Linked DNA regions of Homo sapiens. The protein of the gene in region 1 purifies or fractionates together with the protein of each later gene. This does not show direct contact. Each region holds a gene or a part of one and is shown in the gene's direction. Other genes may lie near its edges. The genes, in order: MAT2B, GMDS, TNS3, MICALL2, PDIA6, EIF4H and SEPHS1.

Region 1 (3,500 bases):
AGAAGAGCAAGACCAAAATTTGAACAGGTTAATCTGTTGGATTCTAATGCAGTTCATCACATCATTCATGATTTTCAGGTATGATTTAGGTTATTTTAAGATATACATGAACAATATTAAGAGTTGTCTGGATGATACAGAAACTATCCTTGCTCTCAAGGAAATTACTATGTTTGAAAGCTCTAAAGTTGTATTATGCAGTAGCATTTTTTTCATTTAGCATGACATGGTATATGTAAACCTTAAAGTTAAATTTTGACACGCTGACAAAGACAAATATGAGACATTTTATAAAATGCTTATGTTTATAGAGTGCCTTCTAAGTAATACTTTCTCTGCAAATGGTTTTCAAATGTTACTGTAAACCTCACAACACTGCAAAATAGTTATTTTCATTTTAGGGCTGAGGGAGCAGGCTCAGAGAGGTTTTCGGTATCATTGATACTATTCTCCCTTTGACATGGATTTATTAGATATTTAAATCATGTTAATTGCATAAATGATAGCTCTTTCCTTTTGTCCAAATTGGGGGATAAAACTTGTTTTGATTTAGAAAGACTTCTGTTTTGTTCTTGTTTTTGTGACGTAATCTTGGTTTGTTGCCCAGGCTGGAGTGCAGTGGTGCAGTTGAGCTCACTGCAGCCTCCGCCTCCCAGGGTTCAAGCAATTCTCCTGCCTAAGCTTCCTGAGTACCTGAGACTACAGGCATGCGCAACCACACCTGGCTAATTGTTGTATTTCTAGTAGAGATGGGGTTTCACCATGTTGGCCAGGCTGGTCTTGAACTCCTGACCTCACGTGATCCACCCACCTCAGCCTTCCAAAGTGCTGGGATTACAGATTTGAGCCACCGCGCCCAGCCTAGAAACATGGTTGTTTTATTTTCAGACAGGGTCTCACTCTGTAGCCCAGGGTGAAGTACGGTAGATCGATCACAGCCCACTGTAGCCTTGAATTCCTTGGCTCAAGTGATCCTTCTGCCTCGGCCTCCACAACAGTTAGAACTACAGGCTCATGCCACCACGACTGGCTGATTTTTAAATTTTTTTGTAGAGATTGAGTACCAACCACTATGTTGCCTAGTCTTATCTTGAACTCCTGGCCTCAAGCATTGTCTCACCTCAGCCTCCCAAAGTGTTGGGATTACATGCATGAACCGTCACACCAGAGTAGAAATACAGTTGTTGACAGTTTTTTTCCTGGTTTGTGTCTGCATATTATGAAATACTCTTTTCAGTGCCTATAAATATTTTAAGTTTGAACCTTGCGGGGAAAAGAAGCAGCATGACAAAACTACATTAGAAATTACAATGATTTATTCTTAGTTGAAAGAATGTTGACTTACTGCACATTTTTCTCTGAATTAACTTTAAGAAGGCTGTAATACCTCTTTCATTTTATTTTGAGTTAAAAATACGTCAATGCTTAACTTCTAGCCCCATGTTATAGTACATTGTGCAGCAGAGAGAAGACCAGATGTTGTAGAAAATCAGCCAGATGCTGCCTCTCAACTTAATGTGGATGCTTCTGGGAATTTAGCAAAGGAAGCAGGTAATGATGACTTTATAAAATTTTCATAAAATATTAAGTGATTGCTGAGTTTTTAGAAATTAAGGTTTTGTAGATGGTTATTTGTTTTTATATATCATGAAAAACCATTCTAAATTCCATGAAAGAGTAATGTCATGTAAACATTTAATAGATTTGTCTTCTTTTTTTGTAGCTGCTGTTGGAGCATTTCTCATCTACATTAGCTCAGATTATGTATTTGATGGAACAAATCCACCTTACAGAGAGGAAGACATACCAGCTCCCCTAAATTTGTATGGCAAAACAAAATTAGATGGAGAAAAGGCTGTCCTGGAGAACAATCTAGGTAAGACCTAATCTATTTAGCCCCTGATTGTTTTTGAAGACTTTAAAAATCATTTATACATACACATATATATGTTTTAAATTTAAAAAGTCAATGAATATGAATCATTAGAGAAAAATTAGAATATAGTTAATAAAGAAAATAAAAAATTCTAAGAGATAACTACTTTGTGAATCCTTCAAGACAGTTTCCACTATCAGTGTTTACATATTCATCTTTACACATAGAAAACAAGTCAGGTAATACAAGCTTTTGTAACTCATTTTCAAAAAACAGGGCAGTATAATTTCTCTTAGAGTGAGATATTCTGTTTATGTATTCTGTTATATGTATGTTACTGTGTTATATGTGTATGTATTTTGTTTTTATGTATTCTGTTATATGTATGTTGTATGTATTAACATTCTATTATGGTGTTTCTTTTTTCCTGTATGTGAGTTTGTGTATAACACACATCTCCATATATAAAAAGTATACACTCCTTAGAAAAAATGTAAAATTACTAAGAACAAAAGTTCTCATAAATGCTGCCTCAGGGAGATAAACACCAAATATGGTTAAGTGTGGAAGCATTTTTATATATTTTCAAAAAATGTATGCATGTTGTTTCACAACCTGTTTTTTTTCCCTCAACATCTTTGCATTTTAGTACACATGGAACCTACTCTGGGATATCTTACTCCTATCAGTGGCTGCGTAGTACTTAATTTAATGGTCCCCTGCACTAAAACTACTGCCTTAGACTGTACTATGGCCTTGAGAAGCAGCCCTAGTGTAGAATACCTTACTAATGGACATTTAGTTTTTTAAAAAGTTTTCTTGTATTATAAATTATTCTGTTGAAATCATCCTTGAATACATTTGTCTTAGTTTATTTCGTGCTGCTATAACAGAATACCAACAACTCAGTAATTTATAAAGAACAGAAATTTATTTCACACAGTTCTAGAGGCTGAGAAGTCCAAGATCAAGGTGAGGGTCTTTCTGGTCCTCTGGAGGGGAGGAATGCTGTGTTCTCACGGCAGAAGAGCAGAAAGGGATGTGCTTCTTCCTTCAAGTCCTTTTATAATGGCATTAATCCATTCATAAGAGCAGAGTGCTGATGACCACCTAAACACCTCCCAAAATGCCCCACCTCCCAGCACTGTTGCTTCGTGGATTAAGTTTCAACATGAATTTTTGGAGAGGACAAAAACATTCAAACCATAGCAGTATCTAAGTTCTCTTGTCATGTAATTTAAAAGAAAATGTTTGATTTGCAGTTAAAGTGTTAACTATTGTATACCATCAGCAGGGACCATTATAAAATCTAAATATTAATGAGTGGTTGTAAAACTAATGTGAACACTCATATACCCTTCACATAGATTCACAAATTGTTGATGTTTTGTCACATTTGTTTTATATGTTTGCTTTTGCCAGACCCATTGATAATTAGTTGAATTTCATCTCCAAATACTTTACCTTTCTTTTATCTTCTAACAAGAAGAATGTTCTTCACATAATTACAGTGCAGTTATCATACATTTGGAAACTTAACATTAATATGGTACTGTAATCAAATACAAATCTATTTAGGAATTTTCTCATTTATGCCAAAAATGTCCTTTATTGCTTTTATTTT
Region 2 (3,500 bases), on another chromosome or scaffold:
TTTCTCATAACCTTACCTAGATAACAAGGTAAAACTGTCTCAGAAGTGCCTTTTAACTTTGTGATCTTTGAAAAAGCAGATAGAGTTTTCATTAAAGACCAGAGAACATTAAAACAATTTCAGTGCTTTCATCAAGATATGGCCCCTTTCAACCAATCATTTCAAAATATTACACAAAATTTAGGAGCCCTTTCTGTAAATAACACTGAAATGAATTTGGAAAGTGGCATTGCCTTAAGTATAGTACAGAGAAACTTTTGCCCAGGGGCCATATCATATCATTTGGATGGCTGTGCAGGTTTCTAAATAAGAGCCATCACCACTTATTTTGTTAAGAGAAAGGCAGCCTAAATAAATTCCTTTCTTGTTTCCTTTAACTAGTTACCCTGTGAACTAAGCTATGTTTCTTTCTCTCCCCATGAGTCCCAAAGTAGCTTTATTAATAGGAATATATGATGTTTGTGTTCTTAAAAAAAATCAGGGTGGTCTTAGATGTCTGTCGTCCATTCTGGCATTTCCCTTTATACAACCCTTTTGAATTTTCTGTTTAAAAACTGGCATTCCAACAGCTTTTCTTTGGCCTAATGCCTGGGTTGCATATTGAAGCAACAAATTAGGAATGTTAAGATGTCCCCCAAAGAAAAACGTTTGTTCTGAAAGTAGAGCTGATGTGACACATGGAATTAGGGCTTCTTAACTTGTCTAAATGACAGTTAATGATCTTTTCTCTTTTTCTTTTCTTTTATTGTTTTAACAGGGTGGCTGGGAGTGTAGAATGAAAGAAATGCCCAGAGGCCGAAATCGGGTTTGGTTCACCAAACTGTTAAATGTGTCAAGTGCACTTGACTGATACTACATCTTTTGCCTCTTTTTAGGAGCTAATTTCGTTACTCGAAAAATTAGCCGGTCAGTAGCTAAGATTTACCTTGGACAACTGGAATGTTTCAGTTTGGGAAATCTGGATGCCAAACGAGATTGGGGCCATGCCAAGGACTATGTGGAGGTAGGAACTGACACATTACATTCTTGAAAATACCCGTATCCATTGATATTCTAAATGCCAAGCGTACAGTGAAAAAGTGTGACCTAGAGGTGGGGGCATACAAACCTTTGCCAAGGCAGGTATGTTTACACTCATGCTGCTTTCACTTCAGGGATCAGTCGTTCAGGGATTGGTGGTTCAGACGTACAGGTAGCTTACACTGAATGGTACTTGAATGAGGAAAACTTTCACAAATACTCTTCCAATTATTTGTGCTGGATGATGGATAGATAGATGGAAAAAGTGTTTGAATGGTGCTCCTCTTTATTTTGGGGGTATAAAAGTACTAGTTCTCAGATCTTCTAGAAATACTGCCTCATTTCAATGTATATAATTCAAGATTCTTGGACTTACATTATTCTACTAAGTCCCGCCAAGAGTAATATTCTTATGGAACTCTGCTTTCTGCTGCTGAAGAGTCTGGTTATTACATCACACACTTCTTAACATGTTATATTGCATGTCGTTGAGCTTTACCTATTAAAGAGAGATAGAGAAAGATGTTAATAATGATTCTATTGTGAAATAATGGATATTGTTAAAGGGAAATTCAGATTTTCATTCTTGGCATTCCTAGACATGCTGTTTTGGGTTTGCATATATTACATACGCAAGTAGTATGATTTTTCTTTTATAAACAAATGGTTACCTTTTACTTTGCCCTGATCTCCCTGCTTTTAAATATCCATGTTGGTTCTGTGGTCAGACATGAGCAAGCATGGTAGAGACATTGTCCTTTCCCTGGAGTAGCCTGTCCTTGTTCAAGTGCTCACAGATTTCCTGTGCTCATGAGCCTATTTCTGTCCTGAATGATGTCTCTCTAGGAAACTGGACCCAGCTTTCTTGTTCATTTATGCAATTCAAAAAGAAACTTTAATGCCTACAAAAGAAAGCAAACAATTAGTTTGTTTGCTAGTGCAGAGATGAGGCTCACCTGCCATCTTGTTTTTGGTCATAACAATAAAAAATGTGTGTGTGTTTGAACAGCTAATACTGATTTCTGTTATGCACAAAATAATTAGCTTTGACTTTAGATTTTGAATAGTGCAACATTTAGATCTATTTATTTATTTATTTATTTATTTATTTATTTTTGAGACAGAGTCTCTCTCTGTTGCTCAGGCTAGAGTGCAGTGGCATGATTTCGCCTCACTACAACCTCGGCCTCCCAGGTTCAAGCGATTCTCCTGCCTCAGCCTCCTGCGTAGGTGGGACTATAGGCATGCGCCACCACACCCGACTAATTTTTGTTTTTTTAGCAGAGATGGGGTTTCACCATTTTGACCAGGCGGGTCTCAAACTCCTGACCTCAGGTGATCCACCCGCCTTAGCCTCCCAAAGTGCTGGGATTACAGGGATGAGCCACCGTGCCCAGCCTAAATCTTTTAAATATGTGCTTCTAAGCTATAATTACAAAGAAGCATTTTATGACATTAATCCTTAGATTTATTTTCAGAACATCACATCAAAAAATATATAGGTTCACGCTTAGAAATTATGAGAAAGTAGATACTGGCAAGAGAAGCCAAAACTTTCTTTTGTCTAACCTAAATGACCTTACCTACTGAAAAATATGAGGCTTGTTATGTAAAAATACATTATTTTCTCAATAATATCTATTTATTGTTTAGCCTTCTAGCCATCAGCATCTGCATAGAGCTACATAGTAAGCTATAGGTATTCTTTTTTTTTTTTTTCTTAAGGCAGAGTCTCGCTCTGTTGCCAGTCTGGAATGCAGTGGCACAATCTTGGCTCACTGCAACCTCTGCCTCCCGGGTTCAAGCGATTCTCCTGCCTCAGACTCATGAGTAGCTGGGACTACAGGCGCGTACCACGACGCCCAGCTAATTTTTATATTTTTAGTAGAGACGGGGTTTCACTGTGTTGACCAGGATGGTCTCCATCTGTTGACCTCATGATCCACCCACCTTGGCCTCCCAAAGTGCCGGGATTACAGGCTTGAGCCACTGCACCTGGCCCTATATAGGTATTATTTATCCAAACTCTTCTCCAAGTTCAAGGAACCAAATCGATTAAATTTCATTCAATTTTATTATTTTGCACGTAGGTGAAAAAGGATTCGGAAATCTAATAGATTTTGATAGTGAGGGAAACAGTATACCATAATGTTGATAGTGCTTTTTACAGGTTGTGTTTATTTTCTTCTTTATACTGTCTTTATTTTCCATAGATTTTAAATGAACATGTGTAAACCTTTGTAATTGGCCGGGGTAGGAGGTGACATTTCAGAAACAGGCCAAAAAGTCTCATGAAAATGAATGAGAGTGTTAAGTAAGTAAGGAGGAAGTCTTGTGTCAACGAGTAGATCTGAAAGAAGGACGCTGCTGTCATCTCACTTCCCAAATGCCAAGCTAGCTCCACTGTGAGTGTAGTCCACATCTGGGCACAACACTTCCCAAATGCCAAGCTAGCGCTGCTGCGAGTGTAGTCCACATCT
Region 3 (3,500 bases), on another chromosome or scaffold:
GATCTCCTGACCTCATGATCCGCCCTCCTCGGCCTCCCAAAGTGCTGGGATTACAGGCGTGAGCCACCGCGCCCGGCCGTATCTTTGCTTCTTAATTTGCTTTTTGACTATTTTTCTACAAAATAGTTTTCTTGTAATATGTGCTCATTGTAGACTTGGAAAAGATAGAGAAATGCTAAGGAAAAAGGAAAAAATTCCTTCTAATATCACCTCCACAGAGGTTCATATTTTAGCCTTCTTGTGTGCCATATGTTTTCTGTGCTTTTTTAATTTACCAAGCTGAGATCATACCATATGTATTATTTTGTATCCTGCATTTTAAAGTCAATGTGGCAGTATAAGCATTTCCCAATCCAGAAATAGCTCTGCATAAATATGACTGCTGATGACAGTATAGTACTCCAGTATGTGGATGTACCATGATATTTGGACTTCACTATTTGTTCATTGATCATTTACATCCTGTGTTATGCTTGCACATAGGTCTTTGGGCAGATCGTAGCTAGTCATGCTCTTGAAAGGATTTCTAGCAGACTCTTTGGCATCAAAGAATACAAACATCTTTTTTTTTAAGCTTTGGTAAAACATGCATAACATGAACTTTGTCGTTTTAATCATGTTTAACTGCGGCAGTTAGGCGACATTAAGAACCTTCACGTTGTGCAGCCATCACCACCCTCCAGCTCCAGAACTCTTTCCATTTTGCAGAACTGAAACTCGGTGTCCCTTAAGCACTAACTCCCCATGTTCCCCTCCCCCCAGTCCCTGGCAACCACCATTCTACTTTCTGTCCCTGTGAAACGGACTACATCGGGTGCCTCATACAAGTGGAATCATACAGTATTTGTATTTTTTGTGATTTGTTTATTTCACTTAGAATACTGTACTCAAGGTTTCATCCATGTTGTAGCATGTGTCACGATTTCTCTCTTTTTAAGGCTGAATAATACCGTGTGTGTGGGGGTGTGTGTGTGTGTGTGTGTGTCTGTATGAATAGCACATTTTGTTTATCCATTCATCTGTTGATACACTTCAGTTACTTCTACCCTTCGGCTGTTGTGAATAATGCTGCTATGGACATGGGTGTATAAGTCCCTGCTTTCCATTTTTTTTTTGGTGAGCACAAGCTTTTTGGAACTCCTTAGTATATATGGTCAAATTGCAGTTGAGACATAGGGTGCTGGCTGGATTCTCACGGTGTCCACCCGCTGTCCTTAAACATGGCTAGGTTATCACCCCCAGGGTAAAAACCAGGCCTGCAGGAAAAGGAAGAGGGAGACTTCTTACCAAGCTATTTTGACAGATTGTGTAAACTCTGTGATTAATGGGATGAGAAAGCAGGAAGAATGTCTTTCATTTAAAAAAAAAAGAGCCTTCGGGGTTGCTTGGTTTTATTTTCAATTAAAAGGGTCTGATTTTGTTTCTGGAGAATGGTTTTAATTTGGATAAATGGTTCAGTCTGGGAACCACATGCCAGAGCCTATGATCTATGAGTGCAATTACTCAGGGTTTCCTCGGCTGCTTTTCTGAGGGAACGGTCCAGAACTGGGCTCGCTCTGGTTTGGCTCTGTTAAAACGTCGATGCAGGCCCTGGGCAGTTGGAGTGAGGCGGTTCTTGTGATCAGTCCTTGAAGTGCAGCCATAATGCCCTCCCCATAATGCCTTCCCCAACTGATGGTGGTTAATTTTTACCCTCTAAGAATGTGTTCACAATTCCAAATCAGGAATGTCAACAGCAGGCTGTCGTTTTCCCCTCCTTGGAACATGTTGAACCAGAATTACTGGCATCTTTTCCAACGTGGGCATTTGCAGAATTGGTGGGATTTGGGGGCTCAAGGAGGAGGCAGACTCATCCTAATGTTTCTCCTCTGGATTACTTGAGGTCCCTGGCCGGGCAGGCCTGCAGGCCCAGAGACGGGGTGGTGGGTTGCTCTATCTGGAGTCAACTGGTGTTTCTTTCCAAGAGGATGCTGGGCTGGGGGAGGTGAGGGACTAAATCCTGGGCGACTTTGCAGAAGGACCCGTCGCGATGGAGGGGCAGCGTGGGCAGAGGCCCTGGGCAGGGCCACCTGCTGTGTTCTGGAGTAGCAAAGGGGATTTGCAGAAGGCAAAGAAGAATACAAAGACACAAGGTAGGGTGTTTCACCCTTTCGGAGAACTGTGGCAAAGCCCTGGACAACTTTCCATGGCGCTTGTAGATTTGAGACCAATGCCCCAGCGACCTAGCGGGCTGGTGGGAGGCAGCGTGGAGGGCGGCAGGGTGTCCCCAGGGTGGGAGGTGGAGAGAGTCTGCACAGAAATTTCCAAGAGCACAGCCCATAAGGGAAGAATAGGCTTGCTCGTGAGGTGGGTGAAGGCATTGCCCTGCTGGCTTGTATCAGGGCGTTGGCTCCTGGGTCCTCAACAAAGGGCATATTAGCATAATGAATAGTTAAGTTACTTGGTTGGGCTTCAGTCCTTGGGGCCGTGGTCTCTTTCCGAGGGAAGGACTGGTGGGTGGGCCCCACCTCTGGAGATCCAGCCTGCATTGGGACCACGTGGTTTGAGAAATGTTTTCCCAAGCCTGGGCCACACGTGACCCTTGATTTCTGGGGCAGCCCTGGTGGCAACTCCCCACATATCCCTGTGAGGCCTTTCTCATTTTCCACTGGCAAGGATTCAGGTGTAACCAGATTATTCTGATGAAAAATTTGAGTGAGACAGGTAACCCGCAACACACAGAGTTGCTATGTTTTGCTCTTTTTTTTTTTTTTGAGACGGAGTCTCGTTCTGTCGCCCAGGCACGATCTCAGCTCACTGCAACCTCCCCATCCCGGGTTCAAATAATTCTTCTGCCTCAGCCTCCATAGCTGGGACTACAGACGTGTGCCACCACGCCCCGCTAATTTTTGTATTTTTAGTAGAGACAGTGTTTCACCATGTTGGCCAGGCTGGTCTCGAACTCCTGACCTCAGGCGATCTGCCCGCCTCGGCCTCCCAAAGTGCTGGGATTACAGGCCTTAGCCACTGCACCCGATCATGTGTTGCTCTTTAACTCCCCACCCCCACCTCCATTAAATAGGAATAATCCAAAACATAGGTCATCGAGAGCATACTGTGCTTTTAAGGCATTTTGCTTATTATTAGTAGAGATTTTGCGACAACTGGAATGGTGTTTATTCACTTTTTAAAGGCTCACTCTTCTCACAGGATAACAGAACACACGATCATTCATTTTCCTCTTCCCACGAAGGTGTTTGCAGCAGTGGGCGTGAGAAGCATAGTGTGTGTGTGACTACCGCGCGAATGGTTCTCCCAAACCTGGATCCCGACCTAGGCGTTGCCGTTGCCGGTCTCTGGGTGTCACCCTCCCATTTATGACTGTAGTGACTTCTCAGAACGCCCTGGAGGGATGGCCTTACTCCAAATGGTCCCTCGGCTGCCGGGCTATTTGTGAGTAAAAGATGTTTGTCAGTGCTGCTTCTTTTAGAACATGCCCATTCCACATCAGCTCAGCTTGT
Region 4 (3,500 bases), on another chromosome or scaffold:
CAGGAGACTGGCCGTCCCTGCCAGCCTCGACGTTTGTGACAACTGGCTTCGGCCGGAGCCCCCTGGCCAGGAAGCCCGAGTGCAGAGCTGGAAGGAGGAGGAGAAGAAACCTCACCTTCAGGGCAAACCAGGTCAGCCCCAGAGACACCGCTGCTGTTTGGGGTGTACGTGAAGGGAGCCTTCCTCTGAGGAGGCAATGCCTGCTGGGGCTTTGGAGGATGCATTCACAGGACCTAGAATGGAGGGAAAGCCTGGAGGAAGGACCCAGCCCCGTGCCCCAGGCCCGCCCTCATGAATAGAGACCCTAGCTGTTTCAGAGTACCTTGTTACAGACTCATGGTGATGATGGAATGTCTGCTTCTGGCAGCTTGAGGGACTGGGGTGGCTGGGGTGTTGCTGACCTGGAGGAGGGCAGGGTGCAGGGTGGGGCTGGGCCTGGAGGCCACTCAGGTGTCTGTGGGGCTGGGTCAGGGCAGTCCAGTGGGCGTGTGGGGCATTAGGGAGGCAGGGCTGGGGCCAGCTGTGCTGTGCTGAGGTCAGGCTCCTTCCAAGCTGTGTCCTGGTCACGTTGGGCCTGGTGGCCCAGGTCCCAGAGGCTCACCCTGCTCCTTCTCCAGGGAGACCCTTGTCCCCGGCCAATGTCCCTGCTCTGCCTGGCGAGACGGTGACCTCCCCAGTCAGGGTGAGTAGTGGTGGGGAGCCGGGCAGGGGCCCAGCCCTCCGGCATCCTCACCGCCCCTCCGTTCCCAGCTGCACCCCGACTACCTCTCCCCGGAGGAGATACAGAGGCAGCTGCAGGACATCGAGAGGCGGCTGGACGCCCTGGAGCTCCGCGGCGTGGAGCTGGAGAAGCGACTGCGGGCGGCCGAGGGAGGTGAGCGCCTCGGCCTGGCCCTGGGCCAGCCCGACTCCCACAGACACCCTCAGTCCTGGGGCTGGGGGCCATGAACTCTGGCGGGCCCCCCTGCCCCAGCTGGCTCCTCTCCCCAGATGACGCTGAGGATAGCCTCATGGTGGACTGGTTCTGGCTCATTCACGAGAAGCAGCTTCTGCTGAGACAGGAGTCAGAGCTGATGTACAAGTGAGAGCCCAGCCGTGGGCCCCTCCTCGAAGGCCAGGACCTCGTTGCGGGCTGGGCAGGCCAGGCGGGGGACAGGAGCGCAGAGTCAGGCCTCAGATGCATGTCTGTGCGGCAGGTCCAGGACCTCGTTGCGGTCTGGGTGGGCCAGGCGGGGGACGGGCGGCGAGTCAGGCCTCAGACTCGTGTCTGTGTGGCAGGTCCAGGACCTCGTTGCGGGCTGGGCGGGCCAGGCGGGGGACAGGGCGGCAGAGTCAGGCCTCAGACGCGTGTCTGTGCGGCAGGTCCAAGGCCCAGCGTCTGGAGGAGCAGCAGCTGGACATCGAGGGCGAGCTGCGCCGGCTCATGGCCAAGCCCGGTGCGTCCCCCGCGCGCCAGCCAAGGGGCCCCAGCCAGGGATGCCGCGGAGCCCAGGATGTCTGGGGGCCGGCTCTGTGAGGCCACCTGACTGTCCTGGTGGTGAGACCTTCCCTGGAGCCAGGCGAGCCCACGTTTGAGTTTCAAATCTCCCACCTCCTGGCTGTGTGTCCTCAGCCAAGGTACTTAACCTTGCTGTGCTTGGGTTTCATCCTCTGCAAAGTGAGGATGCTTGTAGCACCCACCTCACGCAGCTGTTGTGAGGATTAAACGAATCAATTCGCACAAGGCATTTAGTGTAGCAGCAGTCAGGGCGAGCCATAGGCATTTGTCTCGTGATGCAGGGTGCCCTGGCTGAGGGCACAGGCCCAGGCCGTCTGCCTCTGCCCTTTCCTTGCTGTGCTGCAGGGACAGCGACGCCCTGAGCCTCAGTGTCCATATCTCTGCAGCGAGTGGTGTTTCTGCGAGATGATGGGGAAGGATCCCAGCACACGGGCTCTGACGTGGCCGTTCCTTCCTTCATTCACTTATTCACTCATTCATTCTGCTCCGGATCCCCCCAAGACCCCACCTTCTTCCTCCAAAAGAGGAGCCTGGCGCTTGGGTGGTGGGGACATTGTGTCCTGTGAGGGGCATGGCAGTGGTGGGGGGGGCTCCTGCTGACGAGCCATCCCCACAGAGGCTCTGAAGTCACTGCAGGAGCGGCGGCGGGAGCAGGAGCTGCTGGAGCAGTACGTGAGCACCGTGAACGACCGCAGTGACATCGTGGACTCGCTGGACGAGGACCGGCTCCGGTGAGGGGCAGGTGCCGGGGGCCCCTCCCAGCCAGGCCAGGTCGCCTGGTCCATGCTCCCGGCCCTCAGGGTCAGCCAGCCCCGTAGAACTTTCTGACCAGGCGGTTATTGTCTATGCTGACTGGTACAGTAGCCAGGGGCCACATGTGGCCATCGGGGACTTTTTGAAGTCTTTTTTTTTTTTTTTTTTGAGACAGAGTCTTGCTCTGTCACCAGGCTGGAGTGCAGTGGTGCGATCTTGGCTCACTGCAACCTGTCCCTTCCAGGTTCAAATGATTCTCTTGCCTCAGCTTCTCGAGTAGCTGGGATTACAGGCGCACACTACCACACCCGGCTAATTTTTTGTTTTTGTTTTTTTTGAGACGAAGTTTCCCTCCTGTTGCCCAGGCTGGAGTGTAGTGGTGCGATCTTGGCTCACTGCAACCTCCGTCTGCCGAGTTCAAGCGATTCTCCTGCCTCAGCCTCCTGAGTAGCAAGCTCGCACCACCATGCCCGGCTAATTTTTTGTATTTTTGGTAGAGACGGGGTTTCACCATGTTGGCTAGGCTGGTCTTGAACTCCTGACCTCAGGTGATCTGCCCTCCTTGGCCTCCCAAAGTGCTGGAATTACAGGCATGAGCCACCGTAACTGGCCGTAAAGTCTTAGTTTTTTTTGTTTGTTTTGTTTTGTTGTTTGTATTTTTTTTTTTGAGACAGAGTCTTGCTCTGTCGCCCAGGCTGGAGTGCAGTGGCCGCAATCTCGGCTCACTGCAAGCTCTGCCTCCAGGGTTCATGCCATTCTCCTGCCTCAGCTTCCCAAGTAGCTGGGACTACAGGCGCCCGCCACCACACCCGGCTAATTTTTTTAGATTTTTAGTAGAGACGGGGTTTCCCCATGTTAGCCAGGATGGTCTCGATCTGACCTCGTGATCCGCCCGCCTCAGCCTCCCAAAGTGCTGGGATTACAGGTGTGAGCCACCGTGCCCGGCCAAAGTCTTAGTTTTTAACTTGAACTTCCAAGGCCACGTGCGTCTCCTGGCTCCTGCACGGACTGTGTGACTGTCCCCGACAGCTTTCCTGTCTCGTCTCATGAGGGGTCCAGCACATGGCATTCTGGGTCGGCACCTGAAGTCCACCTCTATGAGACCCTCTGGGAGCGTGACGGGGCCTTGGCATGGGTCGGCCGAGGCCCTTCTGTCCCAGGTCACTGGTGTGGTCGGCCCAGGCCCTCCTGTCCCACATCACCTGTGTGGTCGGCCCAGGCCCTCCTGTCCCAGGTCACCGGTGTGGTC
Region 5 (3,500 bases), on another chromosome or scaffold:
CATAACATCCTAGGATGAAGCAGCAGCTGTACTTGAGTCTGAATTAGAACAGTGTTGTTCAGGTGGTTTTTTGAGCCATGTTGAGGTTTCTCTCTAAAAATAGCTGGTGACAGCATTCAGGTACAGGTTATGTGTTGTACTGAATGTATTGATAATTACTTGAAAGTAAAAGACTATTTGCCAAGCAAAAATTACAGTGCTGAGGAATGTACCCAATTTGAATACAACCGTTTTCACTATTTTATTCACTAAAGAAAAACCCTAAAACTTTGTTAAGATGTAGCAGTAGTGTTATTATTTAAAACAGGAAAAGTGTTCTTCTTGGCCCAATTGTTTGATGTTTAATGTCATAAATGACAGGGCAGAAGTGATAGTTCAAGTAAGAAGGATGTGATTGAGCTGACAGACGACAGCTTTGATAAGAATGTTCTGGACAGTGAAGATGTTTGGATGGTTGAGTTCTATGCTCCTTGGTGTGGACACTGCAAAAAGTAAGTGCCTTCTACTAAGTAGTCTGTTCATTCACAGTGTTTTCAGTACATTCATTAGCTTATTTTGAAAGAGCTGAAGTAGATAATAGATCACCACTAAGATCTCTTCCAGCAAAACTCTGACTCTAAGTGAATATTAAACATTGACATTAGCGCCAAGAGCTTCCACTCTCCTATTGCCAAAGATTAACAAGGGACTGGCTCATGTCTGGATTTAGGGGCAGTGGTGGAATGGGAAGCTCATGTGAAGGGTAGCATTGTATCTTTAGTAAAGCCACACACAAAATGTTTTCTAGGTGTGACATAATTGGGGATTGGGCAGAAATGCACAGATCAGTTAAAAAGTATAGGCTAGGCATGGTGGCTCACACCTGTAATCCTAGCTCTTTGGGAGGCCGAGGCAGGCGGATCACTTGAGGTCAGGACTTTGAGACCAGCCTGGGCAACATAGCAAAACCCCATGTCTACTAAAAATACAAAAAAATTGGCTGGGTGTGGTGGCGTGTGCCTGTAGTCCCAGCTACTTGGGAGGTTGAGGTGCAAGAATCTCTTGATTGTGGGAGGCAGAGGCTACAGTGAGCCAAGCTCACACCACTGCGCTCCATCCTGGATAATAGAAGGAGACTCTGTCTTAAAAAAAAAAAGAAAAGAAAAGAAAGGTGTTTGGGCTGCAAGTTAAAATGCAAGTATTTGGCCTGGTGAGGTGGATCACTTGAGGCCAGGAGTTTGAGACCAGCCTGGGCAACATGGGGAAACCCTATCTCTACTAAAAATGTAGAAATTAACAGTGGGTGGTGGCACACACCTGTAGTCCCAGCTATGTTGGAGGCTGAAATGAGATCACCTGAGCCCAGGAGATTGAGGCTGCAGGGAGCCATGATTGCACCACTGCACTCCAGCCTGGGCAACAGAGAGAGACTGTGTCTCAAAGAAACAAAACAAAACGAATATTTTTCTATAGCCTAGAGCCAGAGTGGGCTGCCGCAGCTTCAGAAGTAAAAGAGCAGACGAAAGGAAAAGTGAAACTGGCAGCTGTGGATGCTACAGTCAATCAGGTTCTGGCCTCCCGATACGGGGTGAGTATACTTATAAGGCTCATTTCATTGTGAAATACATGGTGTTTCGTTACTTCTTCCAATACTCCAGGCCTCCCTATGAGGTAGTAAAGGAGATGTTTAAACCATTTTGTAAGTGAAGAGATAAAGTCACTTTATTGTCATAACTAACAAGTCTGAAACTCAGGACTGTCAACTTTTCCCCCTAATGTCACACTGCTTCTGGTATATACTTAATGTGAGGTTTCAGCTTGCCCAGACTTATTCAAGTTGCTCATATGGCTGTTGTGAGTTGGTCCATTTGTTCTAGGGCAGGTACTTTGTGTTAATTATATACCAGGGCTTGAATATGATTGGCTAAACTTCACAGACTGTTAAAACTCCCTGATTGATAATTGACCTCTGTGAGTCATTCCTTTGAAATCTGTGCAGTCTGGAGAACAGTTTTGTTACATTAAATTACCTATAAGGCCAGAGTGGTGGCTCACACCTGTAATCCCAACACTTTGGGAGGCCAAGGATCACTTGAGGCCAGGATTTCAAAACCAGCCTGGCCAACATGGTGAAACCCCGTCTCTATTAAAAATACAAATATTAGCCGGGTGTGGTGGTGTGTGCCTGCAGTCCCAGCTACTCAGGAGGCTGAAGTAGGAGAATTGCTTGAACCCAGGAGGCAGAGGTTGCAGTGAGCTGAGATTGCACCTGTGCTCTCCAGCCTGGGCAACAGAGTGAGACTGCTTCAAAAAAAAAAAAAAAAAATTACCTATAAGGTGGTTTTAGAAACTGTAAAGATTGTGTTATTTTGCATTAAGTGTTAATTGGATTTTATCCTCTGACCTTTTTTTAATAGATTAGAGGATTTCCTACAATCAAGATATTTCAGAAAGGCGAGTCTCCTGTGGATTATGACGGTGGGCGGACAAGATCCGACATCGTGTCCCGGGCCCTTGATTTGTTTTCTGATAACGCCCCACCTCCTGAGCTGCTTGAGGTAAACCACTTCAACTGCTTGTAGTCCAGAAAGCTTTTTTAGCTGATGGTGAGGAATGTTAAAGCAGTGTGACACACTGTTCATTTTATGCCCTTAAAGATACTCTCTTTAAAGTGGTTTCTATACTTTGAAATGGAAAAAAAGTCTGATAAATTGCTTTTCATAACTTTTAGCATTAGAATAATTACACTGAACAGAAATACGAGCTTCTTAAAGATAGAGTGTATTCAATCACTCTTGCTTATCATTCTCAAAGTAATAGAACATTTATCAAGTACTAATCATGTAACAGGCACCGTTCTGGTGTCTTTGTATAGTTTTGTTTTGTTTTGTTTTGTTTTCATTTAATTCTCACATGAACACTGAGAGGTAGATACTGTTTTTAATCTCCATTTTATATATGGGGAAATTGAGGCACAGAGCCTCAAGTGTGTATAAACATATAAGACATATAATACATGTAAGTATAATCTATTTAAACAAGTAAGTGGCAGAGCCAGGCTGTGTCCAGGCATTGCGATTTCAGAGATGTTTGTATGTGTGCTAATCACCCCACCTCCACCACCACAGCTTCCACAGGCTTAAGAATCAGTAGCAGAAAAATCTCCTCTTAGAGAACATGCCTCCAGGTGTTTCCATACGAGGAAGTAGTCGTGGGAGAAATGTTTTCAATGAAAGTGACGGTGCGAAGGTCTTGTTTGCCAGCTTACCTTTAGGTGTTGTATCATGCAGCCTCCTGATTGTCCCTTGTCTTTTGGGTCCCACAGATTATCAACGAGGACATTGCCAAGAGGACGTGTGAGGAGCACCAGCTCTGTGTTGTGGCTGTGCTGCCCCATATCCTTGATACTGGTAAGACAGACGGAAATGATTTCCCTTAGCTGTTCTATGCTAGATGCTCTGAGAATACTTTCTAAATGGATTAATTTTATGGACTCCTTTATCTTTACCTTTAAAAAACTT
Region 6 (3,500 bases), on another chromosome or scaffold:
CATTTTCCTTACTTAGCAACTACATCAAACACCCGAGAGTTTATCATCTCTCTTCATCCTCACCCTCCTTTTTAGTTTTTATGTATATGTTACACATTCATACACACAAACATACCTGCATATATACATGTGTTTTATACGTCCCACACAACTGTGAGCTGCTTACATACAAGACAGTCTTTTAACATCATTACGCATCACTAGATGTTTAATGTTGAGTAATGAATTTAAACTGTTTTTAACATTGACCCTCCATTTTTATGGTTTTCCACATGTTTATACTGTATCTTGTTTTTTGTTTGTTTGGTTTTGTTGTTGTTTTTTGTGCTTTTTTGTTTGTTTTTTGTGTTTTTTTGTTTTTGTTTTTTTGAGATGGAGTCTCGCTCTGTAGCCCAGGCTGAAGCGCAGTGACACAGTCTCAGCTCACTGCAAGCTCCACCTCAGCCTCTGAAGTAGCTGGGATTACAAGTGTGTGCTACCACACCTGGCTAGTTTTTGTATTTTTAGTAGAGACGGAGTTTTACCATGTTGGCCAGGCTGGTCTTGAACTTCTGGCCTCAAGTGATCCACCCACCTTGACCTCCCGAAGTGCTGGGATTACAGGTATGAGCCACTGTGCCCCGCCTTTTTGTTGTTGTTGTTGTTTCTTCAGTTGGAGACAGTCTCCTTCTGTCACCCAGGCTGGAGTGCAGTGGTGCCATCACAGTTCACTGCAGCAACAACCTCCTGGGCTCAGGTGATCCTCCCACCTCAGCCTCCCAGGTAGCTTGGGACTACAAGTGTGGACCATCACTCCCGGCTAATTTTTTGTATTTTTTATAGAGATGGGGTCTTACTGTGTTGCCCAGGCTGGTCTTGAACTCCTGGCTTTAAGTGATCCTCCCGCCTCAGCCTCCCAAACTGTTGGGATTACAGGCATGAGCCACTGGGCCCGGCTTTATACTGTAACTCATATATTTATTATCCCGTCCTAAATAGTATCTTACTGAAAATATTTTAGGATTTATGATTTCGGAGATATCAGCGATAGAGTACTATTGGCAAAGGTTATTGAAATGCAAAGTAAGTCACATTTACTAGGCCCGAAAAGATGGGAGAAGTGGGCAGGTAGGATGCAATTCACTTGTAAACCTATTTTCTGGTGGTCTTAGAACAGAACGTGGAACTTCCTATTGGAAAGTACCGGAATTGTGAATTATGAAACTTAAAAGCTTTTTTTTTTTTAACCATCAAAGAATCATCACAGCTTGGTTGACCCTTCTACTTTAGAAAAATGCTTTAATGAATAATATTTGTCTGCAAGACACCTGGAATTTATCTTCAGGAAGAAGTGGAATTTCCATTGTGTTTCTGGCAGTATGTAGATGAAAGACCAGGTTGCTCTCTAAGATGGATATTAATATTTCCCCTGCAAAGAGGGTGACTTTGGGCAGGTCTTGGGTTGTTGTGAAGGATCTCATTTATTTGAACGCATTTCCCGTTTAGAAAAAAAAACTGCAGTTGGCTGCCAGCACGGTATTCTTGGAGCAAACAGGAAATGGGTTAAATGTCTGTTTCAAAAAAAAATCACCCCCTTAATTTTTTTTTCCTCCTGAGTTTTCCAAACGTTTTATTTTGGAAATTTTCAAATCTACAATAAGGTTGAAATAATGGTACAGTTGGATGACGCTAGTGGATGCAGAAGTGACTATTCTGCCTTGTTTGCTGAATCCTTGCTGTATACCGGCACACATGCCCTTTATGCTGACCTGCTTGAAAACAAATGTTGGCCATCTTGGCACTTCACTTCTAACGACTTTAAGTCGTTCCTGGGGCATTCTTATGGCAAATATCGTTTAATATAATAATCTATTTATACTATATTCTGATGTCTTTTTTTTTTTTTTGAGATGGACTCTCGCTCTGTCGCCCAGGCTGGAGTGCAATGGGCTCACTACAACCTCCACCTCCTGGGTTCAAGCGATTCTCCTGCCTCAGCCTGCCCAGCAGCTGGGATTACAGGCATGCACCACCACACCAAGCTAATTTTGTATTTTTAGTAGAGACAGGGTTTTACCACATTGGTCAGGCTGATCTTGAACTCCTGACCTCAAGTGATCCACCCACCTCGGCCTCCCAAAATGCTGTATTAGGATTAACTCAGTTTTACAAATAAAATAAAGCTTAGAGAAGTTGAATAACTTCTCAAGGTCATATGCTAGTAAGTGACAGAGGCTAGATTTAAACCAATACCTATGCAGAGTAAACGACGCTTGATACAGCTGAGGAGATGACATCGAGGTTGAAATGGATTGGTAATGCACGCCATACGCATGTATTTGAGGACCCTGTGAAGTATTGCACGAGAGTGTTAGGTACGTCAGTACTTGCTGTGTGACATCTAAAATTTTTATTAGGACATTCTTATGCCCATAATCAGGCAACAAGGAGAAATTTTTTTTTTTTTTTTTTTTTTTTTTTTTTTTTTTTTTTTTTTTTTTTTTTTGAGACGGAGTCTCTGTCGCGTGAGCTGAAGTGCAGTGGTGCGATCTTGGCTCACTGCAGCCTCCGCTTCCCAGGTTCAAGCGGTAGGAGAAATAATTCTATTATGTATGAATGTGTTAAACGTAAACAACTTCAGTAATCCTTCTTCTGAATACAACATTACTTCTAGACTGTCCATTTCTGTATTTCTTAGAACCACGGTGTGTGAAGGAGGGTACTTGCTTAGGTTTTAGGATGTAAATACTGCAGATACAGATTCTGAGTGAATAGGAGAGAAGCAGTTGTCTTAGGAAGGTGTGTTACGTTTGGGCTGGGCATGGTGGCTCACACCTGTAATCCCAGCACTTTGGGAGGGTGAGGCAGGCAGACCACCTGAGGTCAGAAGTTGGAGACCAGCCTGGCCAACATGGTGAAACCCTGTTTCTACTAAAAATGCACAAATTAGCCAGGTGTGGTGGCACATGCCTGTAATCTCAGCATCCTTAGGAGGCTGAGACAGGAGAATCTCTTGAACCCGGGAAGCAGAGGTTCCAGTGAGCCAAGATTGTGCCACTGCACTCCAGCCTGGGTGACAGAGTGACAGTCTGTCTCAAAAAATTTTTCTTTTCCTTTTTTTTTGTTTCTCCAGCCATTCTCTGTAACAGTCTTGTGGTACATCGAGCAGAGTGCCTCACCTGGGGCGCTGGCGGCGTAGCTCAGCGGAAGACCGCTTTACTTGTTTTGCTTATTCCACTCTGGGCACACTTGAATCCTGTTTGTCTCCCCTCCTAGGTCCCGCGGCAGTGCTGGTGGCCATGGTTCCCGTAGCCAGAAGGAGTTGCCCACAGAGCCCCCCTACACAGCATACGTAGGAAATCTACCTTTCAATACGGTTCAGGGCGACATAGATGCTATCTTTAAGGATCTCAGCATAAGGAGTGTACGGCTAGTCAGAGACAAAGACACAGATAAATTTAAAGGTGAGTTTGGGGGATTCTTATTGTATATTACTGTAAAGTGTAGGGGAGGATGGGAAG
Region 7 (3,500 bases), on another chromosome or scaffold:
TGTTGTCTAGAACATCTTCCAGCATTGGATAAAATGATGACAATGTGAAATATTTTCTAGCTTTTGTTTTTGTTTGTTTTTGAGACAAGATCTCCCTGTGTTGCCCAGGTTGGAGTGCAGTGGTGTGATGAGAGCTCACTGCAGCAGCCTCAGCCTCCCGGGCTCAAGACATCCTCCCACTTCAGCCTCCGGAATAGCTGGGACCACAGGCACATGCCACCACACCAAGCAATATTTTTTTTTTTTGTTTTTGAGATGAAGTCTCACTCTTGTGCCCAGGGCTGGAGTGCAGTGATGCGATCTTGGCTAACTACAACCTCTGCCTCCCAGGTTCAAGCGATTCTCCTGCCTCAGCCTCCCAAGTAGCTGGGATTACAGGCGCATGCTACCACACCCGGCTAATTTTTGTATTTTTAGTAGAGACGGGGTTTCACCATGTTGGCCAGGCTGGTCTCAAACTCCTGACCTCAGGTGATCTGCCCGCCTCAGCCTCCCAAAGTGCTGGGAATACAGGCATGAGCCACTGTGCCCGGTCACCCAGCAATTTTTACATGTTTCGTAGAGAAAGGGGTCTGTCTGCATTGCCCAGACTGGTCTTAAACTCCTGGGCTCAAGCTCTCTGCCCACCTCGGACTCCCAAAGTGCTGGGATTACAGGCGTGAGCGATTATGCCTGGCCCCTAACAACCTTCCCTGTCTGTAAACTTTGAGGACTTCCTTTAGGATTTTATGGTTCTTTTTATAACTGTAAGTGTAAAAACCTTCTTTTCTGGGTTTTGAACAGAATTCTTTGACTTTTTATTTGTACCTTTTTCAACCTTAGGAAAGGGATAAAGTGATGCCTCTGATTATCCAAGGTTTTAAAGACGCAGCTGAGGAAGCAGGAACATCTGTAACAGGCGGCCAAACAGTACTAAACCCCTGGATTGTCCTGGGAGGAGTGGCTACCACTGTCTGCCAACCCAATGAATTTATCATGTAAGTTGATTTTTGTTTCATATCACCTGACCTGTTTTTCTCTCTCTGTCCTCTCTTTTTAAAAATTGATGTATTAAGGTCAGGTGCAGTGGCTCACACATATGATCCCAGACTTTGGTAGGCCGAGGCGGGCAGATCACCTGAGGTCAGGAGTTTGAGACCAGCCTGGCCAATGTGGCGAAACCCTGTCTCTACTAAAAATACAAAAATTAGCCAGGCATGGTGGGGCAAGCCTGTAGTTTCAGCTACTCTGGAGGCTGAGGCAGGAGAATCGCTTGAACCCCAGGGGTGGAGGTTGCAGTGAGCTGAGATCATGCCCCTGCACTCTAGCCTGGGCAACAGAACAAGATTCTGTCTCCAAAAAAAAAAAAGACAAGAACGCAAGGCTGGGCGCGGTTGCTCATGCCTGTAATCCCAGCGCTTTTGGAGGCCAAGGCGGGTGGATCACCTGAGGTTGGGAGTTTGAGACCAGCCTGACCAACATGGAGAAACCCCATCTCTACTAAAAATACACAATTAGCCAGGCATGATGGTACATGCCTGTAATCCCAGCTACTTGGGAGGCTGAGGCAGGAGAATCACTTGAACCCAGGAGGCTGCGGCTGCAGTGAGCCAAGATCGCGCCACTGCACTCCAGCCTGGGCAACAAGAGCGAAACTCCATCTCAAAAAAAAAAAAAAATAGATGTATTAAGATATAATTTGCGTACTATACCATTCACCCATTTAAAGAGTCAGTGGTTTGGAGTATACTCAGAGTTGTACAGCCATTACCGGAGTTGATGTTAGGATGTTTTCATTGCTACAGGAAGAAACCCCATCCTCCTCGGCTCTCACTGTTCACTCCTGCTCCATCCTGGATTTTGTCACTTAGCATAGTATTAGCATACTTTTAAGGGTCATCTATTTTGTAGCATGTGTCAGTATTTTAATCCTATTTTTAAGACATTTTAGGTGTTTTTGTTTTTTTTTTTTGAGACGGAGTCTTACTCCGTCGCCCAGGCTGGAGTGCAGTGGTATGATCTCGGCTCACTGCAAGCTCCATCTCCCGGGTTCATGCCATTCTCCTGCCTCAGCTTCCCGAGTAGCTGGGACTACAGGCACCTGCCACCATGCCCGGCTAATTTTTTGTATTTTTAGTAGAGATGGGGTTTCACCATGTTAGGCAGGATGGTCTCGATCTCCTGATCTCATGATCCGACCGCCTCAGCCTCCCAAAGTGCTGGGATTACAGGCGTGAGCCACCGCGCCCGGCTGACATTTTAGGTTTTTTAGTTGAAGTATAATTCACGTAACAAAATTTCACATAACATAGAATTCAGCATTTTGAAGTACACAATGTGTTGGTTTTTAGTATTGACAAGGTTGTGCACCCATCACCACTATCCAATTCCAGAATGTTTTCATCACCCCAAAAAGAAGCCCTGTAGCTCACTCCCATTTCCCTCCTGCTCCCATCCTCTGGCAACCAAGAATGTGCTTTTGTCTCTAAGGATTTGCCTGTTCTGGACATTGTATAGAAATGGAATCGTGCAGCATGACATGCTGTGTCTGGCTTCACTCCCATAGCGGAATGTTTTCCGGGTCCATCCGTGTTGTAGCATGAATCGGTATCGCATTCCTTTCCATGGCTGTATAATCCATTGCATGGATGGACCCTGCTTTATTTAGCCATTCCTCAGGTGACGGACCTTTGGGTTGTTTCCACCTATTAGGAATGATGCTGCCATGAACATTCTAAGTTTTTGTGTGGACATAAGTTCCGGTCTCTTGGGTGTATACCTAAGAATTGACTGGGTCATGTGGTAATTATGTTTAACTTGAGGAATCATCAGACTGGTCTCCAACATGGCTGCGCCATTTTACGTTCCCAGCAGCAATGTATGAGGATTCCAATTTCTCTATGACCCCTCCAGTACTTGTTTTCCTGTCTGTCTTTTGGATTCTAGCCAGCCTACTGGGTGTGAAGTGGAATGTCTTTGTGGTTTTGATTTGTGTCTGCCTGATGACTGATGAGGCCGAGCATCTTTTCATGTGCTTACTACCCATTTGTGTATCTTCTTTGGAGAAGTTTCTCTCCTAACCAAGTTGTCACTTTCCATGTTTGATGTCTTGTTAAGAAAAGTCAGTCTTTTGGCCGGGCGTGGTGGCTCATGCCTGTAATCCCAGCACTTTGGGAAGCCAAGACGGGTGGATCATCTGAGGTCAGGAGTTCAAGACCACCCTGGCCAACATGGTGAAACCCTGTCTCTACTAAAAATACAAAAAATTAGCCGGGCACGATGGCAGGCGCCTGTAATCCCAGCTACTCAGGAGACTGAGGAGAGTGGTTTGAACCCAGGAGGCGGAGGTTGCAGTGAGCCAAGATCGTGCCACTGTACTCCAGCCTGGGTGACAGAGTGAAACTCAGTTTCAAAAAAAAAAGATCTAGAATTAGAAATACCATTTGACCCAGCAATCCCATTACTGGGTATATACCCAAAGGATTATAAATCATGCTGCTGTAAAGACGCATGCACACATA

Evidence for each region.
Region 2: the proteins of MAT2B (region 1) and GMDS fractionate together in Homo sapiens (co-fractionation; one large-scale study listed by BioGRID). This does not show direct contact.
Region 3: the proteins of MAT2B (region 1) and TNS3 fractionate together in Homo sapiens (co-fractionation; one large-scale study listed by BioGRID). This does not show direct contact.
Region 4: the proteins of MAT2B (region 1) and MICALL2 purify together in Homo sapiens (co-immunoprecipitation; one large-scale study listed by IntAct). This does not show direct contact.
Region 5: the proteins of MAT2B (region 1) and PDIA6 fractionate together in Homo sapiens (co-fractionation; one large-scale study listed by BioGRID). This does not show direct contact.
Region 6: the proteins of MAT2B (region 1) and EIF4H fractionate together in Homo sapiens (co-fractionation; one large-scale study listed by BioGRID). This does not show direct contact.
Region 7: the proteins of MAT2B (region 1) and SEPHS1 fractionate together in Homo sapiens (co-fractionation; one large-scale study listed by BioGRID). This does not show direct contact.

Annotation. Positions count from the first base shown.
Region 1 is NC_000005.10:163,512,119-163,515,618, forward strand, and holds part of MAT2B (methionine adenosyltransferase 2 subunit beta), read left to right. Parts: coding exon 1-78; intron 79-1,436; coding exon 1,437-1,551; intron 1,552-1,723; coding exon 1,724-1,876; intron 1,877-3,500.
Region 2 is NC_000006.12:1,927,606-1,931,105, reverse strand, and holds part of GMDS (GDP-mannose 4,6 dehydratase), read left to right. Parts: intron 1-875; coding exon 876-1,003; intron 1,004-3,500. UniProt on the Homo sapiens protein: Catalyzes the conversion of GDP-D-mannose to GDP-4-dehydro-6-deoxy-D-mannose.
Region 3 is NC_000007.14:47,572,112-47,575,611, reverse strand, and holds part of TNS3 (tensin-3), read left to right. Parts: intron 1-3,500. UniProt on the Homo sapiens protein: May act as a protein phosphatase and/or a lipid phosphatase. Involved in the dissociation of the integrin-tensin-actin complex. EGF activates TNS4 and down-regulates TNS3 which results in capping the tail of ITGB1.
Region 4 is NC_000007.14:1,435,471-1,438,970, reverse strand, and holds part of MICALL2 (MICAL-like protein 2), read left to right. Parts: coding exon 1-131; exon of another isoform or gene 132-617; coding exon 618-682; intron 683-750; coding exon 751-874; intron 875-990; coding exon 991-1,081; intron 1,082-1,362; coding exon 1,363-1,436; intron 1,437-2,114; coding exon 2,115-2,229; intron 2,230-3,500. UniProt on the Homo sapiens protein: Effector of small Rab GTPases which is involved in junctional complexes assembly through the regulation of cell adhesion molecules transport to the plasma membrane and actin cytoskeleton reorganization.
Region 5 is NC_000002.12:10,788,786-10,792,285, reverse strand, and holds part of PDIA6 (protein disulfide-isomerase A6 isoform d precursor), read left to right. Parts: intron 1-360; coding exon 361-491; intron 492-1,452; coding exon 1,453-1,567; intron 1,568-2,396; coding exon 2,397-2,537; intron 2,538-3,304; coding exon 3,305-3,389; intron 3,390-3,500. UniProt on the Homo sapiens protein: May function as a chaperone that inhibits aggregation of misfolded proteins. Negatively regulates the unfolded protein response (UPR) through binding to UPR sensors such as ERN1, which in turn inactivates ERN1 signaling.
Region 6 is NC_000007.14:74,184,356-74,187,855, forward strand, and holds part of EIF4H (eukaryotic translation initiation factor 4H), read left to right. Parts: intron 1-3,255; coding exon 3,256-3,443; intron 3,444-3,500. UniProt on the Homo sapiens protein: Stimulates the RNA helicase activity of EIF4A in the translation initiation complex. Binds weakly mRNA.
Region 7 is NC_000010.11:13,331,294-13,334,793, reverse strand, and holds part of SEPHS1 (selenide, water dikinase 1), read left to right. Parts: intron 1-822; coding exon 823-977; intron 978-3,500. UniProt on the Homo sapiens protein: Synthesizes selenophosphate from selenide and ATP.